Regions from separate parts of the Homo sapiens genome. Here all the other regions are linked to region 3. Evidence: fine-mapped expression QTL. A gene starts in region 3. Each other region holds a variant in brackets. All regions are shown on one strand. Distances are from middle to middle.

Evidence for each region. PIP is the estimated chance that this variant, and not a neighbour inherited with it, causes the effect.
Region 1: its variant is the best candidate, but not a certain one, in a credible set for the expression of CCDC167 in whole blood (INTERVAL, PIP 0.69).
Region 2: its variant is the best candidate, but not a certain one, in a credible set for the expression of CCDC167 in whole blood (TOPMed, PIP 0.72).

Annotation. Positions count from the first base shown.
Region 1 is chr6:37,551,028-37,555,259 of GRCh38, reverse strand. No RefSeq gene overlaps it. Among named protein-coding and RNA genes, the nearest start is that of MIR4462, 2.3 kb to the left of the region's middle. RefSeq lists enhancers at 878-1,378, 3,951-4,130 and a silencer at 1,233-1,527. The variant C/T (reference allele first, on the strand shown) is at 2,068.
Region 2 is chr6:37,358,056-37,362,287 of GRCh38, reverse strand. RNF8 (ring finger protein 8) reads right to left here. Exons shown (of 8, transcript NM_003958.4): 2 at 1,714-1,842. It also overlaps the pseudogene RN7SL273P. Among named protein-coding and RNA genes, the nearest start is that of RNF8, 6.2 kb to the right of the region's middle. The variant G/AG (reference allele first, on the strand shown) is at 1,849.
Region 3 is chr6:37,497,772-37,502,003 of GRCh38, reverse strand. CCDC167 (coiled-coil domain containing 167) reads left to right here and starts at 2,111. Exons shown (of 4, transcript NM_138493.3): 1 at 2,111-2,182. The coding sequence starts at 2,141. RefSeq lists an enhancer at 1,919-2,118.

The DNA.
Region 1 (4,232 bases), 53 kb before region 3:
AAGGGCCACCGCTCCCCGCGGGCCTCAGAACAACCCACCACTGCCTGGCTTGTAAATTGTTATGGCCCAATGAAGAGCTTGCCCTTAAATGTCACTCACCCAGGAATTAAGGTGAAGACAGGCACAGGGACTTGCCAGTGGCACGGCCCAAGGTGGGGGCTAGCAGGAGTGGGCCCTGCAGGATGGGGTGAGGGGCAGACTCCTCGGGAAGGGCAGTTGGATACCAGGTCTGGGGTTAATGAAAAGTGCCCCCTGCCCCCTAAGTGATCATTATCTCCAGTAATTATCCTTGCTCCTGGGGGGAAGCAGGGAGGGGCGCACTGAAGAGCTGTCATTAGAATGGACTGGCTAAAGAATCCAGACCTGGCGCACTGGCCTGGGGTCCTCAGCCTCTCTCCCCCTCTCTCTTCCCCATTCCATCTCCCCGCCACCCCACCTGTCTTCCTCCCCACCTCCACCTCTCTCCCCCCTCCCTGCCAATCTTTCTCTCTCAACCCAGTTGCCTGCATGGTTCACAGGTTTCTCTTTGCCCTGTGGACCCCAGGGTAGATTGAGAAGGAATCTTAATGAGTCTGACTCAGGCCGGCATCACGCAGGCTGCCCCGCTGTCTAGCTTCATTTTCTAACTTTGGGGGCACGGAAAGGTCGGCTTCCACCTCTTCCCTGGAGGCCCTTCTCTAGAAGAAGGTAGAACTTCAGGTGCCTTCCAGGAAGAAAGTGAGCTTTAGGTGCTTCCCAAGCGTGACCCTCTTCCCTCTCCTGTAACCTTTTAGCATTGTGGAATAAATCTCACGTCCAGAAAAGGGCATGAAACAAATGTTTCATTAACACATTATTTCAAAGCAGAGTAGCCACCACCTCAGTCACAGACCAGAACCTCACCAGCACCCAGCAGCTTGCGGATCCCTTCCCGTTGACCTTCTCTTCCCCAGAGGTCCCAGGCAGTCGCTTCCTACCTTTCTCTGTGTGTTCCCTCAACAACGTGCTTCAGTTTTCCCTGTTTCTGAACTTTATATAAATAGAGTCCTGCAGGATGCGGTGGCTCATGCCTGTAATCCCAACACTTTAGGGGGCCAAGGTGGGTGGATCACGAGGTCAGGAGTTTGAGACCAGCCTCACCAACACAGTGAAACCCCGTCTCTACTAAAAATACAAAAATTAGCCAGGTGTGGTGGCACGCACCTGTAGTCCCAGCTACTCGTGAGGCTGAGGCAGGAGAATCGCTTGAACCCAGGAGGCGGAGGTTGCAGTGAGCCGAGATTGCACCATTGAACTCCAGCCTGGGAGACAGAGCGAAAAAAAAAAAAAAAAATAGAGTCCCATGTACGCATTCTTTCGTATCTGGCTTCTTTCAGCCAGCCTGGAGGTGTTTGTGTGACTCATCTCTGTGGCTCGGGTAGTCACAGTTCATTCATTCTCATTGTCCTAGAGAGCTTGTCACTGTCTGCATGCTACAGCCCTGCCACCCATCTCCCCAGCCCACATGTCACCAGCTGCAGCATCTTCAAGTTTTGGGGCTCCTGTGCAGGAGGGATGTGACTGATCCTTCCTGCCAGGAAATTCCCCTTAGGTCTAACCTCTTTCTCCCTCACCCACACTTTGCTGGTTTGCTGCCTCTGATGAAGTCAGGGGAGAGGAAAGATACAGCAAAAATAACACATCAATAGCATTTGCAAGGCATTTTTCAAGTATGAAGCACTTCTTAATACACTAATTAAGTGAGATGGTCATTATCATCCTGTTCTAAGCATTTTATATTTTTAACTCATTTAACCCTCAGAACCACCTTTGAAGTAGGTGCTATTATTATCCCTATTTTATAGACATGGGAACTGAGAAGTTAAAGAATTTGTCCAAGGTAGGGTTGCCAGATAAAATACAGAATGAGCAGTTACATTTGAATTTCAGATAAGCAAGGAATTTTTTAAAGCATAAATATATCCCAAACACTGCATATTAAATTCAAATGGGCATCTTATATTTTTGACTTCCTGAATCTAGCAACCCTAGTCCAAGGTCACAGTGCAAGTAACAGTAAAGCCAAGATTCAGACCCCAGCTCCTACCC[C/T]ACAGCCTTGTGCCCTTAGCCACTGCTCTCCTGTTACAGTGGGACCACACTAAGGCCCTGGCGTCCAGGGAGAAAAGCAGATGCATTTGAAACTGTTGAGTAAATCAAACAAGCAAGGCTAGGAAACAGATTTGCTATGGAGGCTAAAGGAGAGGGAGGAATTAAGAAAGGAGTTCAGGCCGGGCACAGTGGCTCACGCCTGTAATCCCAGCACTTTGGGAGGCCGAGGCAGGTGGATCACCCGAAGTTGGGAGTTTGAGACCACCCTGACCAACATGGAGAAACCCCATCTCTACTAAAAATACAAAAATTAGCCGGGCATAGTGGCGCATGCCTGTAATCCCAGCTACTCGGGAGGCTGAGGCAGGAGAATCACTTGAACCTTGGAGGTGGAAGTTGCCGTGAGCCGAGATCGTGCCATTGCACTCCAGCCTGGGCAACAAGAGTGAAACTCTGTCAGAAAGGAAGGAAGGAAGGAAGGGAGGGAGGGAGGGAGGGAGGGATGGAGGGAGGGAGGGAAGAGAGGTCAGTTTCTGGCTCCAGTAGGCAAGATTCAGACAGGAGGCTTCTTGCTAGGAATCGCCCAGCTCAGAGGAGACAGGGCATCTCCCAAGGCTGGGTCACCTGGGGGCTGGTGGCCAACCCCTCCAATCCTCATTCTCCATCTGGTCTGAAGGGATTTGGCTCAGCCCTGCCTGGCTCAGATACTTCAATCCTTCCATTTCTCACATGGCCCCAATCTCCAGCCTCAAAATTCATAAACAAACCACCTCATCCAACTGCTAGGCTCTCACCAGGGCCTGCCCTCTACCCTCCGTGGGCCCTGTGCCAGGGCGAATTGCCCTCTTTGGATGGGATGCAACCGAAAAGCCTCCCAACTGTAAAAATCACAAAATGTTTGGGATGGTGTCAGAGGCTGCAAATGTGGATACGTGCTTTTATTTTGCATAGAATAATGCATTTAATTACTTCTTCCAGGGGAAGCCTGTTTGGAAGATAGTTGAAGGCAATGCTAATAATAGCACTTTGCACCGAGGGCCTCAAACGTAGAGGAAGAGCCATGAGAGCATTTCATTTCTGTTCCTGAGAACTTGAAAGCTCCTGCAAACACTTGCGCCTTCTTCCTCAAGAGGCAGAGGGAAATGTGAAGAAAATGCTGCGGGTTTTCGCTTTTAACTCGCTGTTTTGATCCTCTGCAGCCGCTAGGATATCGGACTCCCAGAGAGACTGGGCGGGGTAGAGGGTGGTTATTGTCTGGTGGAAAGAGTGTGGAACTGGGGGACACAACTTTTCTTCTCCTTCCTTCTACCATACCCCAAAGGGCAGGGCCAGAGGGAGCCCCCCAAAAATGCCTGCCCTGGCTGAGGCTGTTTTATGCACAGAGCACTGCACAGTGAATCAGGATAATCTATTTTGCCAATTTGGTAAATTATGCTCCTTCTCTGGCCTTGGTCCTGCCCTAGGGTGTTAGGCAAATTGCTTAACTGCCCCGAGCCTTGTGTTCCTCATCTGTAAAATGGGCTCATAATGATACCTGCATAGAGGCATGCTATGAGGGTTAGATGAGTCAGATCATATGAATGGGCTTAGAACAGCGTCTGACCCACAGGAAGAGCTCCATAACAATAACAATTATTAGTTTCTGAGCAATGAGGAGTTTTGAACCAGATCAGGGACCAAGGAGATAAGGGTGCGAAGGGTGTAAGGAGACCTGGTGTGAGGCTTTAGGGAGCAGAGCCAGCTGTGGAACCCGGAGACAGCAGCCTGTGTAAACAAATTCAAATGTAAATTCTAAAAATGCTCTGCAAGCCAAACACAGTGGGTCTGTGGAGTGTGCAGAGCTCTGGGACCAGCAGTTTCAATGGGCTGAGCTTTATGGCTCCTTCTACCATGACAAATCTCTGTTATTTAAGTTCAGGCTCTACCACTCAAATATGGAACCAGCAGTGCCTTAGAGCCCTTCAAGTCCAACCAACCCCTTCACCCATTCTACAGGTGAGGAAACTGAGACCCATAGAGGGGAAGTGGCTGTTCCCCATGCAGGGCACTGTCCCACACGGCCTCCTAGCTTGCTGCTGTGTGCTCTTGGGGAAGTGGCTCCGGGCTGAGTTTTGCCTTTGCTTTGCACCCCTCCGGGCTGGGTTTTGCCTTTCCCAGAGAAGGAA
Region 2 (4,232 bases), 140 kb after region 3:
AGTTGATCAGCTGTTGGCTTCCCAACCTATGAAAATCTGCTAATCCCATAAGTGGATCACATCTACACTGCACATAATTAAGAAAAGCAGCAGCAGAGAACTCACCTCTATAATATTGTAATCCTAACTCTCATACAGCCTACTCTGATGAGGAAAACATCTTTTCCTAAGCTGTTTTGATATACGCTATTACAGAGGCTTTAAAACCTTGCAGCTATATTTTAAATATGCATAATTAATTGTTTGACGTCATAAAGCCAGTATAGCAAATTGCTTACATACTTTACTGATACTTGACACAGGGCATAGCAGAGAAACTTAAGTCCTGGCTCATTATAGAGAAGGCTTTGGGCAAGACAGTTTATCTCTCTGGGCCTCAGATTCATCTGTCTACATAAGGGGTTAAAGTAGATAATCTCAGTGCCAATTTTTATCCTGCTCATGGTGCCTTGCTAAAAGTGCTGAACTGATTTACTTAGCATTTATGTACTGTCTCCTTCAATACAGTGCCAACTCAACTTAATTCTAGAGCAGGAAGATACTTTCCAACAGCTTAAATCTAGCAGTTTTATGCACGCAATATGAGGATGGCAGGCAGACCTGTGGGATACCCTCCCTTCTAATGGTACCTTTAAAATCCTAACTGGGGCAGTGAAGCAATATGAAATGGCACTTAAAGACATGTTATACTTCCTAAACATTAACTGTTTATGTTAGAATTTCTCTCACCTCATAGTCTGTATTTTCATCACATTCCTCGGTGCTTGTATATCTGCACTTTAGGTATCTTCTTTTCTTTTTGATAGCGACAGGGCTTCACTATGTCAGCCACACTGGAGTGCAGTGGCTATTCACAGGTGCAATCCCTTTGTTGATGAGCACAGCAGTTTTGACCTGCCCTCCTTCCAACCTGGGTCAGTTCACCTCTCCTTAGACAAACTGGTGGTCCCCTGCTCCCAGGAGGACACCATATTGATGCCGAACTTAAGGCAGACACCAGAATGGCATAGCACACTATAACCCAGAATTCATGGGCTCAAACAATCCTCTGGCCTCAGCTTCTCCAGTAGTTGGGACTACAGGCATGTGCCACCACACCCAGCACATTAGGTACTTTCTAATTGCTGGGCTTCATATACTATTGCACCTCCCTCAATATATTTACCACTAAACTAGTGGTTTTCAAATTTGTTTAAAGGAGAAAAACCCATTATTCAAAGGAAATCTTCGGAACACCAATATTTAAAACATGTTTTAAAGGCCAGGGGAGGTTGCTCAGATTGAAAGGAGTGAGGAAGGAAAGGAGCTAAGCGCAATCAGATCAGTTTCTCCCTCCTCCCCTTGTCCACTGAGCCATAAGTGTACTCCAGAAGCGTCAGCAGATTCTGCAGATTCCCAGGGTCTCTGGGAGCTTCACCTCAAACAGGCTTATTTGCCCAGTAACTTAGTCTAGTTTCTGGAATAGGACCTACTACCCCAATTCAGGTATTCTCTTCAAGTTAACAAACTTTAACCCAAATCAAGAGAAATTATTTTAGCATAATCGAATCTCTGGCAGCATATGGAAGTGGCTGCCTCTGGAAAAGGGAACTGGATGGCTAGGAAAGAAGAAGTTATACTTTTGAATTTTATACCATGAATTACCTATGCAAAAAAAAAAAAAAGTAATTTAAAAACAAATAAAAGTCATTAGGCTTCTGTGAATTCCTGTACCTTGTTGTCCATAATTGTCCATTGGCCCTCAGGATTCTGCTTCAAAACACAGTGGTTTCGAGAAATCATCAGGGGGCAGATTTTTGATACCAGTTGGTATGTGACACCAAATCCTCGTCCTACAGTCACCTGGGA[G/AG]ACAACAACAATGCAAGAAATACCATCAGTCATTGTGCTGAAAAGGGAGGTCCTTTACAAATCTCATCAACCAGCAGCATATGCAGGTCCTGACTTAAGAAACCAGACACCTGTGGAACCAAAACAGTGCATCAGCTATCTCCTCTTCAGCTGTCTTGAGAACCACCAAGTAGAAAAAGGCAAACGGTTGTGACAACAAGAGAAAGCTGAAAAAGAGTTATCCATGTATCTCAGGGTTGCCAAGATCTTGAAAGGTCATCTGGTTCAATGACTATGAGATAGAGGAATTCTTTCTACACATCCCATCAACGCATAAATACTGTCAGTAACTTTACATAAGGCAGGCCCTCCAATTTTTAAAATGTCTCTGACTTGGCATTTTTCTCCTTGTAAATTCCATCCATTGGCCCTGGCTTTGCCCTGGGCACCATCGGGAAATCTCCAATCCCCTTTCAATGGCACAGATATAAAGTGAACACTGAGTTTTCTCTTTTCCTGGTTCTGTATTCCCAGTTACTTCAACTTAACTCCCAGGGGATGGGCTTGAGCCTTTGCCATTCTAATGAGTCTGTGAAGGGACTGCTGGTTTATCTTTATTCCTGGATGGCATATTAAGAAAAATAAACTTAATTTCTATTACACAGTCAAACGCAAGTGTTACTTTCCCAGTTCTAGATATTATCACTGGAGCATATAAATTGCATTAGCTTTCATAGCAGATCTAGTACACTGCCAGTGTATCCTCGAACTTAGGAATGATTAAATTTCTTGGTCTCCCCCTCCTCCAAGAAATGCTATCCTAAGTCCTGTCTCTTCTGCTCTATACTTGACTGGATGGAAAACCTTGGATTCAAGCGCAGGACCTTAGATTGATTCCTATTAAATTTCATCTTGCTAGTTCAGCCTATCAAACCAATTTGTCAAGACCTTTCTGAATTTTTAATCTGCCATCAGATCAGACATACTTAATATCTCTTCCACCAAATTTATGAGATGATGCCTTCTATACCTTCGTTCAAGACACAGAATGGGATGCAGCCAAAGGCAAAGTTTTCAGGAAAACCTAGTAAACATTAACCCACACCATCTGGATATACCTTCAGCCAGTTATAATTCAACCAAAAGTCTTTGCATTGGAGTACATATTCTCTGTCTTATCCACAAGAACAGCTTGAGAGCTTCCGGAAAAGGTTGAAAAGAAGCCCCAGTTCACATCTATCATACTTTCCTGTTGGACCAGTCTAGTTCATAACAACCCTGTGAAGGAAGGAAATGAAATTCTTCTGAGTTCCAGATCACAGAATTCCCTTATTCTTTTTTGTTTGTTAATTTTTTTTTGTTTTTTTGAGAGAGTCTTGCTTTATCACCCAGGCTGGAGTGCAGTGGCACGATCTTAGCTCACTGCAACCTCTGCCTCCCGGGTTCAAGCAATTCTCCTGCCTCAGCTTCCACGTAGCTGGGATTACAGGCACGCACCACCACACCCAACTAATTTTTGTATTTTTAGTAGAGACGGGGTTTCACCATGTTGGTCAGGCTGGTCTCGAACTCCTGATCTCAAGTGATCTGCCTGCCTCAGCCTCCCACAGTGCTGGGATTACAGGTGTGAGCCACCGCGCCCGGCTCCCTGCATATTCTTCTTAGTGCACAAACGACCTCTTTAATGTCCCATATCACAACCTTAACTGGGAACTTTAAACCAAAGTTAGCTAAAACTGCCCTCTTCTCTTCTCTTTAAAATCTTTCAGAATGCCTGTCCTCCTCAGTCCCTCAAAGACCACCACGACTCACTGACCTAATCTATTCCTCCCCACAAACTCTTATCTCAGTATTCACAATACTATCCAACCAACTACTCAACCCATAACCCAGAAGCCATCTTTGATTCATCTCTGTCCCTCATCCCCACATTGAAATCACTGGTAAATTATATGGGCTATAATTCAAATATGTCCTAAGTCTGTTCATTCCTATCTCTGCAGCCACAGCCTTAGTCCAAACCACCTGGCCTCCTACTGTTTCTGTTCTCACTCTAGCCCCCATAAGCTTTATAATAGTAACTGGAATAGAAATGTAAAAATTTTAAATCAGGTCATTTTCCTTCTTTCCTTAAAACTGTCCAATCATTCAAACTTCCTTCCATGGCCTATAAGACCCTGAATGTCCTGAGCCCTTCTACTCTTTAGTCTTAACTCATACCATAGTGCCAACACTAGCTGCTCCAGCCCCTCAAACTTTTTTGTTGTTGTTGTTCCTTAAGCCCATCTCCCCGAAGTGCCAGCCTACCTGAGGGTCTTTTCACTTAGCCCCTCTGCTAAGAACACTCTTCTCTCAGATCTTGCACAGGCTCCTTATCTTTCATGTTCCAGCTACTCATAAGCCTA
Region 3 (4,232 bases):
TCACATACAAAAACACAGGCACCAACAGAGATAACTGGTCAGGAAATAAGGAGCTTTGATTCTGGTCTCATACTCTTTGACCTAGTAATTCTACTTCTGTGAATTTATCTTAAAGAAAGAATCCAGAGGACAGAGCTGTGTGCACGAAAAGGTTTGCTTTCGCAATATTTGGAGTTACTGTCAATAAAATGATGTCCAATGCAAGAATGCGAGAGACTCCCTTGGTGGCACATGAGGCCACCGCAAGTGATAATTTCAAAGACACAGAAAAACATACTTGGCAGTGTTTTTCAAATTGCAGTTCAACCTCCATTAAGGGGTCATGAAATAAACCTAAGAGGTGTCCTGCCACCAACTTGTTTTTGTTTATTTTTTTGAGATGGAGTTTCGCTCTTTCACCCATGCTGGAGTGCAGTGGCACGATCTCGGCTCACTGCAACCTCCGCCTTCCAGTTTCAAGTGTTTCTCCTGCTTCAGCCTCCCGAGTAGTTGGGTTTACAGGCGCCCACCACCACGCCCAGCTAATTTTTGTATTTTTAGTAGAGACGGGCTTTCACCACGTTGGCCAGGCTGGTCTCAAATTACTGACCTCGTGATCTGCCCAGCCTCCCAAAGTGCTGGGATTGAGAGGTAAAGCCAGCTGGACTTCCTGGGTTGAGTGGGGACTTGGAGAACTTTTCTGTCTAGCTAGACAATTGTAAACGCACCAATCAGCGTTCTGTGTCTAGCTAAAGGATTGTAAATGCGCCAATCAGCACTCTGTAAAAACCCACCAATCAGCGCTCTGTGTCTAGCTAAAGGATTATAATGCACCAATAAGCACTCTGTGTCTACCTAGGGATTGTAAATGCACCAGTCAGTGCTCTGTAAAAACGCACCAATCAGCGCTCTGTGTCTAGCTAAAGGATTGTAAATGCACCAATCTGCACTCTGTAAAAATGCACCAATCAGCACTCTGTGTCTAGCTAAAGGACTGTAAATGCACCAATCAGCACTCTGTAAAATGGACCAGTCAGTGCTCTGTAACAGGGGACAAATAAGGGAATAAAAGCTGGCCATCCCCCAGTCAACAGTGGCAACCCACTCAGGTCCCCTTCCATGATGTGGGAGCTTTGTTCTTTTGCTCTTCACAATAAATCCTGCTGCTGCTCACTCTCTGGGTCCGTGCTACCTTTAAGAGCTGTAACACTCACCGTGAAGTCAGTGAGACCAAGAACCCACCTGAAGGAACCAACTCCAGACACAGGATTACAGGCCTGAGCCACCGTGCCCGACTTTGTTTTTTTTTAATTAAATAGGCAAGAATACAAAATAACAGAGTGCATTACAGGAGGTAAAGGTACTTACTGTGAAACTTTGGTTTTGGTTTCATGGGTAACTGGGCCATGGTATAAAATACATTTTTTTATCGTAGGGTCACAGTCAAAACATTTCAAAGGCCGTGGGTCTATGGTGTACAGTATAGTACGATTACAACAATGTAAAATACTGTGTGTGAGGCCAAGCCTGGGAGGAATAAACAGAAGCAAAGAGGAACTGATAAAGTTGGTAGAATAAAGGATGCTGCTTCTCAGTTATATGTTTTCTGTGATGTTTGTAGGTTGTTCTTACAATAAAACAAACCAAAAAAAAAAAAAAAAAGAAGTCAAGACACAAAGGAGAAATAACAATAGAGGGCCATTATCAGATTCCATTGGCCGAGAAGCTCAAGGCTCCAGCACCGGCCTTGAAGGATGGACAGACTTTGAATGGGGGGCGTGGCCTAAACAGGGACGGGGTTGTTGCTGAAACACAAAACACACTGAAAGAGAACATGGGGTTAAAAAAGGCTCTCAGTGATGCAAAGCGGCTTAAAACTGGGGAAGAAAGGGGCAGGTCTACTCCCGGGCTGTACATTCTGCCTCCCTGTACCGACTTTTCCACCCTCCACCCATCTAGGCTGAGGTCTCAAGCTAGAGGTTGCCCCTCATAAACATGTCCGCACCAAGCCGGCCGCGCCCCTCAACAAGATGGCGACGGCAGCAGCCCCACCTCCCGCTGACTCGGTGGCCAATGAGGGAGAAGCACGAAGACTTGAGCATGCGCACATAGCGACTTGGTGGGCGCGTCCAGTGATGACTGGGGGATCCCGGCAAGTAACATGACTAAAAAGAAGCGGGAGAATCTGGGCGTCGCTCTAGAGGTGAGGGGAAAAGTGGGGGTTGGGCCACCTCGTTAGTTGCCTTCTCCTGGCCGCGGGATAAGGGATAGGCTGGGCTATAGATAGGAGGAGGAGCCAAGCGTAGGATGAGAGGGCGACGCGGTTTGGGGAGAGGGACGGGAGGGGTGAGAAGGCCCACGGGGTTCCCGGAGGACAGGGAGCCCGAGGAGGTGCCGGATGGGCGAACCAGACTCTCTGGAGAGGGCATCTCCAGAGAGGAAGAGACATGGAAGTGAAGGGGAGCCCCAAAGACGGCCTGGCATAGAAGTGAGGGAACTCAAAGCGGGGGACACAGAACAAAAGGGATGGGTACAGAGGTGAGGGAGACCCCAGAGAAATAGGGACCTGTAGAATCTAAGGAGAACTCCCAAAGGGCTAGGACTCAAAGATGAGGGAGCCCATTCTGGTGTATATTATTAATGGTTTAAATATCCTCTAAAAGGGGAAATTTTTCCTCCGGAGTATGGAAGCTTGTACCTTCAAAATTACTTTGGGAATATGTAAAGAGAATTCTGGAATTGGTGATGTCACTGAATGGCTTAAAAATAATTTGCTGCATATAGAAGGGAAAGAAAACATACATACTGAGCAACCGCTATGTGCTACTTTCATTGCATTGTTAATCCTCACTGCAAGCCTGTGAGGTTTGTACAGATGAGGAAATTGAGGTTCCAGGTGGAACCCAGGCTGAGATGGTGGAAGTGGTGGAGCCTGGGAATCAAGCACAGGTGGTCTTCCTGGAAATTCATCTTGCTTCCCCTGTTTTCCTTCCCTTAGGGCATCCTCCCGGAGGTTGCAGGAGAGGTACAGGGTCATAGTCTTCTTCAGGCTTACTAGTGAGTTCAGTGATTCTCAAACTTTAGCATGCATAGAGTCACAGGGCTTGTTAAAAATGGAGAGTTGAACTCTTCCCACACCCCGAGTAATTCAGTAGGACTTTGATGTGCATTCTTAACAAGGAATCTGCTTTTTTTTTTTTAAGACAGAGTCTCGCTCTGTTGTCCAGGCTGAAGTGCAGTGGCGTGATCTCGGCTCACTGTAAACTCTGCCTTCTGGGTTCAAGCGATTCTCGTGCCTCAGCCTCCCGAGTAGCTGGGATTACAGGCACGTGCCACCATGCCTGGCTAATTTTTGTATTTTTGTAGAGACGGGGTTTCACCGTGTTGGCCAGGCTGGTCTTGAACTCTTGACCTCAAGTGATCTGCCCGCCCGCCTTAGCCTCCCAAAGTGCTGGGATTACAGGCATGAGCCACCACAGCCGGCCAGAATCTGCATTTTTTTTTTTTTTACAAGCCACACACACCCCATGGTGATGTGGGTAGTTTTAGTGGCATCCCTTGAGAAATATTGGCCCACTTGGTAGGAAAAAGGTTGATGGAAATGTGAAGAGGATGGTTTATGAGTGGTGACTGAGATGGTACTTTGTGGCGGGAAGAACATAGACTTTGTAACCTGCATTAGGGTACAATAAGCTGCAGTAACAGAGAAACTCCAAAACTCAGTGGCTTCAAGAACAAGAAAGTGAGTTTTTTTCTAACAGGCTAGAGCAAGGGGCAGGAGATGTCTGCAAATGGTCAGATAGTAACTATTTTAGAAGAGACATGGTCTCTTCTAGAGAGCCAAATGGTCTGGGTTGCAACTACAGTTGATCCTCATTATTCACAGATTCCACATTTGCGAATTTCCCTAATGGCTAAAATGTATTTGTAACCCCAAAATCAGTACTCACAGTGCTTTTGTGGCAAATGCAAAGCAGTGGGAAAAAAATTGAGTCGCTCGCAGTCCATGTTCTCAGCTAAAGTTGAACAGGTGATGATGCCCTGCCTTGTTTCAGCTGTCCTACTGTAAACAAGGGTCCTTATTGTGTTCTATTTAGTGCCCTGTTTTTGTTTTGTTTTGTTTTTTTCATTCTCATGTTTTTTATTGGTATTTCGCTGTGTTTTGCTTTTGAGACAGAATCTCACTCTCGCCCAGGCTGGAGTGTAGTGGTGCACTCTTGGCTCTGCAACCTCCACCTCCCATTCAAGTGTTC